Homo sapiens: one gene and its partner. The protein of the gene in region 1 purifies or fractionates together with the protein of each later gene. This does not show direct contact. Each region holds a gene or a part of one and is shown in the gene's direction. Other genes may lie near its edges.

Region 1 (3,500 bases):
GTGGATCCACGATACCTCGTGCAGGTAAGATTAAGATTTTACTAGTTTGGTGCATTATTTTACCATTTTAAAAAAAACGCCAAGTGCTATGCTGACTTGAACTATGACATACACTTTTGGAGGCAGTAAGTCTCTGGTCTCCATTCACCCTTTTTTCCTCACAAACACCAGGAGCTTGGCCTGCATCTCTCTGAAACCAGTTAACTCCCTTCAAAAGCTTATTTTTTAAAACCAGAGCAGAATTAATTTTTGAAAGCACCCCAATAAAAGTATTGGGATGCCTAGTTACAAAGTGTGTGGGGTTTTTTGTTTGTTTGTTTGTTTGTTTTTGAGCCAGAGTTTTGCTTTTGTCCTCCAGGCTGGAGTGCAGTAGCGCGATCTCTGCTCACTGCAACCTCAGCCTCCCAAATTCAGGCCATCCTCCTGCCTCAGCCTCCCAAGTAGCTGGGACTACAGGCGCCCACCACCACGCCTGGCTAATTCTTGTGTTTTCAATAGAGACGGGGTTTCACCATGTTGGCCAGGCTCCCAAAGTGCTGGGATTACAGGCAAAGTGTGTTTTAAAGCTCAGTTTACAATATCAGGGTTTTTTTGACTAAGCATCAAAAGTTTCAAAGAGTATCTTTTTGAATCCAAGATATATTAGGAAATATATCTTGGGTATATTAGAAAAGCAAGGTTGATTTAACATCTGAAAATTAATGTATTGTGCCATATCAATTTATAATAAAGCAATCAAGGAAAGAATATAGTACAAAGACCACATGCTTATCTCAATAGATTCACAAAAATCATTTGACAACATCCAACACCCCCTTTAATGATTATAAAAACAAACTAGGCTGGGCGCAGTGATTCACACCTGTAATCCCAGCACTCTGGGAAGCTGAGGTGGGCAGATCACTTGAGGCCAGGAGTTTGAGACCAGCCTGGCCAACATAGCAAAACGCTGTTTCTACTAAAAATACAAAAATTAGCCAGGCGTGGTGGTGCCTACCTGTAATCCCAGCTGCTTGAGAGGCTGAGGCACGAGAATCGCTTGAACCCTGGAGACAAAGGTTGCAGTGAGCTGAGAACACCCCACTACACTCCAGCCTGGGCAACAGAGTAAGACCCTATCTCTAAATAAATAAATAAAACTAGACATAAAAGGGACTTCAGCCTGTTAAATGCCATCTACAGAATATCCAAAGCTAACATAATTTAATGGTGAAAGACTGAATGCCTTCTCCCTAAGATCAGGAACAAAATAAGTATATTTACTCTCATTTATATTCAGCATTGTCTGGCCAGGGCAATTAGTCAAGTACGTTAAATGGCATTCAAGTTGAGAAAGAAGTTAAACTATCTGTTTACAAATGACATGATCTTATCTATAGAAAATCACAAGGGAAATCACAAAAATCTGTTAAAACTAATGATCGAGTTCAGCAAGTTGCAGAATACAAGTTCAATATACATAAATCAAATATATTTCTAGACAGTTGCAATGAACACTACAAAAATGAAATTACAAAAAACAGTTGATTACCAATAACATCAAAAAGCAAATACTTAGAAATAAATGGACCAGGTGCAAAACATATTCTGAAAACTATAAAACATTATTGAAATTAAGTGGAAAGACACATGCTATGATCCTGAAAATTTTAATATTAAAATGGCAGTGCTCACCAAATTAACCAACAGATTTAGTGCAGTGCCTGTCAAAATCCCAGCTGGCTTTTTTGCAGAAATTGACAAGCTTTTATCCTAAAATTCATATGGAAATTCAGGGGACATAGAATGGCCAATGACCTTGAGAAAATAGATTGGAGGACTTGAACTTGCCAATTTCAAAACTTTCTACAGAGCCACATCATGATAGTAACATAAGAATAAATCCATAGTTAATGAAATACAGAGTCCAGAAGAAAGACCTTACAATATATGCAGTCACTTGCTTTTCAGCAAGGATGCCAAGATAGTTAAGTCAGGGGAGACGTTAGGACAACTGGAATCCATATGCATAAGAATGAAGTTGAACCCTAACCCTGCACCATATGCAAAATGTTACCACCAAATGGATTAAAGACTTAAATGTAAACTAAAGCAGTCAAACTCTTAGAAGAAATCATGGGCACAAGTAGTTGTGACTTTGGATTAGACTGTGATTTCTTGGATGTGACACCAAAAGCACAAGTGGTAAAAAGAAAGTTGATAAATTGTATTTAATCAGAATTTAAAAATTTTGTGGTTTAGACAATACCAACAAGAATGGAGGCCAGGTGCAGTGGCTCATACCTGTAATCCCAGCACTTTGGGAGGCTGAGGTGGGTAGATCACCTGAGGTCAGGAGTTCGAGACCAGCCTGGCCAACATGGTGAAACCCCATCTCTACTAAAAAACAAAAATTAGCCAGGCGTGGTGCTGGGCGCCTGTAATCCCAGCTACTTGGGAGGCTGAGGCAGGAGAATCACTTGAACCTGGGAGGCAGAGGTTGCGGTGAGCCAAGATCGCGCCACCCGCACTTCAGCCTGGGCAACAGAGTAAGACTCGGTCTCAAAAAAAAAATAAAAAAATAAATAAAGAATGGAAAAAGTCCTGGCGCAGTGGCTCGTGCCTATACTCCCAACACTTTTAAGAGGCTGAGGCGGGAGGATCACTTGAGCCCAGGAGTTTGAGACCTGCCTGGCCAACATAAGAAGATCCCATCTCTCCAAAAAAATACAAAAATTAGCCGGGTGTGGTGGTGTGCACCTGTAGTCCCAGCTACTAGGGAGGCTGAGGTGGGAGGATCACTTGAGTCCAGCAGGTCAAGTCTCAGCATAATCAAACCACTTAACTCCAGCCTGGGTGACAGAGAGAGACTTTGTCTCAAAAGGAAAAAAATTGGGAAAAGACAATCCACAGACTGAGAGAAAATATTTGCATATTATGTATCTGATAAGGAATTTATATCTAGAATATTTAATTTTTTTAACTCTTGAAACATTAATAAAAAATAATTACAAAATGGGCAAAGGATTTGAGTAGACATTTCTCTATGAAGATATACAGATGTCTAATAATGACATGAAAGCTGGTCAGTAACATTAATTAGAGAAATAAAACCACAATGAGATACCTCTTTACACCCACGGGGATCACTATAATCAAAAAGAAAATAATGAGTATTGTTGAGGATGTAGAGAAATTGGACCTCTGTACATTGCTGGTGGGAATGTAAAATGATACAGCTGCTTTTAGAAACAGTCTGGCAGTTTCTCAAAGTGTTAAAAATAGAGTTACCTTATGACTGGCAATTTCACTTGCGTATACTCCATACTCAAGAGAATTGAAAACCTCTGTGCACATAAGTTGTAAATGAATGTTGCTAGTAGCATTATTCATAATAACCAAAAAATGGAAACAAACCAAATGTTTATCCACTGATGAATGGATAAAAAAGTGTGGCATATCCATACAATGGAATATTATTTGGTAATAAAAAAAGAATTATTAAATTGTGCTACAATATA
Region 2 (3,500 bases), on another chromosome or scaffold:
AAATTCCCTCGGGCTTCTAACTCCCAACACTGTGGTTACCATTTTGTCCTGTAATTCCCTCATCTCATATGCTATTTTTTAAAAAAAGGATACTTCTGGCCGGGCACGGTGGCTCACGCCTATAATCCCAGCACTTTGGGAGGCCGAGGCGGGTGGATCACAAGGTCAGGAGATCGAGACCATCCTGGCTAACACGGTGAAACCCTGTCTCTACTAAAAATACAAAAAATTAGCCGGGCGTGGTGGCGGGTGCTTGTAGTCCGAGCTACTCGGGAGGCTGAGGCAGGAGAATGGTGTGAATCCAGGAGGCGGAGCTTGCAGTGAGCGAGATTGTGCCATTGCACTCCAGCCTGGGTGACAGAGCAAGACTCCGTCTCAAAAAAAAGAAAGAAAGAAAAAAAAGAATACTTCTGAGAAACAGACTCGGATGGTAATAGGTTTTAACAGCTTTCTTTTACACCTGCGAATCTTCCTCCTTGCTAGAACAGTGGTAAGTAGCCCCAGTTGTACTGGAAAATGCCCTGGAGAGCTTTTGGAAGTGCTGATACCCAGCCCCACCCTCGGAGATCCCGCTGTAATGGGTCCGGGCTGGCAGGCTGGGTGTGCTGTGAGAGTTCTGTGCTTTAAGCACTCCCAGGGTGATGTGAAAGTGCTGCTGCCCGGGACGCTCCACTGGGCTGGAAGGGCTGCCTCTGGCCACTGGGCAGAAGGGGGTTGTCCTTGGAGGATGGGGAAGAGGAGGCTGGGAATGCCTGAGACTGATTGAGCCAGTAAAGGGGCAGGAGGGACTGGGGAGAGGGGAGCCTCCTTCTCTGACACATCCACCCAGGAGCCTGGCTGCTGCCAGCTGTCTGCCCGAGTGGCTGGAGGCAAGAAACCCACTTCCCCAGGGCCTACCTGCAGGCCCCACACAGGCTCCGTGGTGGGTGGTGTGGACTGTAGAAATGTCTGCCTGCAGCGGGGCTCCGCGGCCCACTTCCCGCCCCCCTTCCTCTGTGCCTTCCCTGGTGGGGGAAGACCTACTCTGTGCCCAAAGAGCAGGTGCACAAAGGCCAGGGGTTGCCACCTGGTGGCCCAGTTGGAAGGATCTAGCAAACACACACCCAGCATTGAGGGCAGTGTCCCTTGGACCTGGTGTGGTATACCCTGTGCCCGTGGGAACATCATCCTTGGGCCTGGGGCCTGGGGCCACCCCAAGGAGCAAGGGGGCCCATGGCAGAGAACCATTCCTGCACCACTGGGGCTCAGCAGAGGGGCTCTGCTGCCTGGCCTGAGCTGTCCCTCTAGACATACCCACGCCCGGCCGGGGAAGCTGCTTGCCCTCTTCTGCCTCCCCACTGGTCCTGAGCCCCCTGCTACCCTCTAACCCAGGCCCAGACCCTCAGCCCTCAGGATAGGCTTAGGTGCAGAGCTGGCTCAGCTGTGCGATTGTAACCCCTCCCTCTGAGCCTCCATGTCCTGGTCTGGGAAGTGTTGTGAGGTTTGTAAAATGTGAGGTGTGGATGTGGCCCCAGGCTAGCCGGGGAAGAAGTGGGGATGGGACGTCCTGACCTAGACGTGGAGGCGGAACTCAGTCGCCAGACGGATGTTTCCTGTTGGCGTGAACACCAGGGGAGGAGTCATCCCTAGGTGGATATCCCCCCTGCCAGGCCCCAGGAGGCACCTGGAGCTTCCTGGGTGCCCTGTGGGGCCTGGGGGGGTGGGGACAGGGTGTGTGGTGTGTCGTGCTGGTGGGCCTCGGTGGTGGGCACACATTGTTCACTCAGCTGTCTCTTGTCTTCTCTATTTCTTTGGCTTCTCTCCCCGCCCCCCTTGCCCTGCTTTTGCCCGGGGTTTGGCCGCGGGCAGTGCCAACATACGGCCCTTACGGTAGGTCCCGCTCTTGGTCTGCATGTCTGTCCTGCATGTCAGTTCTGGTCACTGTCACTGGCATGCGTCTCTCTGTAGCTCTTCTCCGTGTCCTCATCTCCTCCCCACCGGCACCCCCTGGGTGGGAGCGCCCAGAGCACCTGTCAAGGGCCACCCTCTGTAGAGCTTGCCTGCTTCCGTCCTCGTTTCTCGTTCTGGAATATGCCCCGCCTTCTTCTGGGGGCACAGTGCTGTTCATGGGATATCGGGGCATTTCACGATGTTTCCAAGAGTTCACAAGCTGAGTCAGGAATCCTGGGTTCCAGGGGTGGGCTCGTCCCTTACATCCAGGTGTCCTGGGCCACCTTTCTGCTCTGAGCCCCTGAGGATGGGGACAGTTGATTAGAGAGATGAGGAGGAAGCCCTCTTAGAGGGAGCCAGTGAGTCGCATCTGCTCCCCTGGGGGTGCAGGCCAGCCTGGTCCTGATCTCCAGAGTAGAGGGAGCACAGCACTTCCCCCGGTGGTGGGGGACGCGCCTGGCACCTGTGGAACCGGGCACCCCTGGCTTCCAGGCCCTCTGGCCCCACATGCCCCAACTTCAGTCAGTGCTGAGCCTGCTCTGGCCTCTCTGGGGCATTCTAGGCTCACTGCCCATAGCTTGCCAGTCTCCACCCTGGGTCCCTTCCCTGCAGCCAGCCCAGCTCCCAGTGGGGGTTTATGTCTGCTCCTCTTCACAGTCCAGCCTCCCCTTGGGGCTCCCCAGCCAAAGAAGTCCATTTTTTCCTGCCCCTTCTCATATCCTGGACCCCATTCTCTGTCCCAGAAGGGATGGTTGAAGGGCATAGCTTTGGGTTGGGGGGTGTCTGTCCCAGGATCACGGGCAGGGGCTGAGCCACCTCCCTCTCACCGTCCCAGCCTCCTCACCTGCCCCTCCCGCTCCCTGCCCGGCAGGCCGCTGTGCCCCCATGAAGAGCATCTCCAGCAGCCTCAAGGAGACCATGAACCCGCACGACATCGTGCAGGACGCCATCCACAACTTCTCACCTGCCTACCAGCAGTACACGCAGCAGTCCACCCTGGAGCCTGGGCCCACCTGGCGTGGTGGCGCCCACGGCCTCTCCCGCTCCCACAGCCTCAGTGGCGCCCGCGACAACGAGAAGACTCTCCTGCTCAGCTCTGATGATGAATTCTAGGTGCGGGCTGCAGTGGCGGAAGTGCTGGCGCCATAGCCACGGTCAGGCTGTGCCCCACCTCCAGCCTCACCACCAGGCCAGGAGGCAGCTGGCACAGTGCTCACGCCGCCTTTATTTATTGGACCAGAAACACTCACATGTCACTTCCAGAGGAACGGGGGACAGCCAGGCTCGCCCATGGGCCTTCAGGAATATTTATACATGGCCCAGCCTGCACTGCCCGGGCGAGGGCAGAGGACACTGGGAGCAAGGCTTATGCCCCTGCTGCCCGTCCTGTGCTGGGGGCATGCTGGGACCAGCCGCACCCAGGCCCCAATGCTTGTGTGTGGACCAGCGGCTGCAGCCTTCTAGCCCCTCCTCCCCGCGAGACTCTCAGGCTGAGGTCGGCAAGCCGTGGCTCCCCCACACACCGTGCAATACCCTGTCTGACCTGGGCTCTTCCCGCCTGCATCCCTCCC

What was found. Proteins that work in one complex are often made in the same cells at the same time.
Region 2: the proteins of TIMM23 (region 1) and TMEM184B purify together in Homo sapiens (affinity purification with mass spectrometry; one large-scale study listed by BioGRID and IntAct). This does not show direct contact.

What each region holds. Positions count from the first base shown.
Region 1 is NC_000010.11:45,975,489-45,978,988, forward strand, and holds part of TIMM23 (mitochondrial import inner membrane translocase subunit Tim23), read left to right. Parts: coding exon 1-24; intron 25-3,500. UniProt on the Homo sapiens protein: Essential component of the TIM23 complex, a complex that mediates the translocation of transit peptide-containing proteins across the mitochondrial inner membrane.
Region 2 is NC_000022.11:38,221,011-38,224,510, reverse strand, and holds part of TMEM184B (transmembrane protein 184B), read left to right. Parts: exon of another isoform or gene 1-32; intron 33-1,848; coding exon of another isoform or gene 1,849-1,869; intron 1,870-2,764; coding exon of another isoform or gene 2,765-2,800; coding exon 2,801-3,042; 3' UTR 3,043-3,500. UniProt on the Homo sapiens protein: May activate the MAP kinase signaling pathway.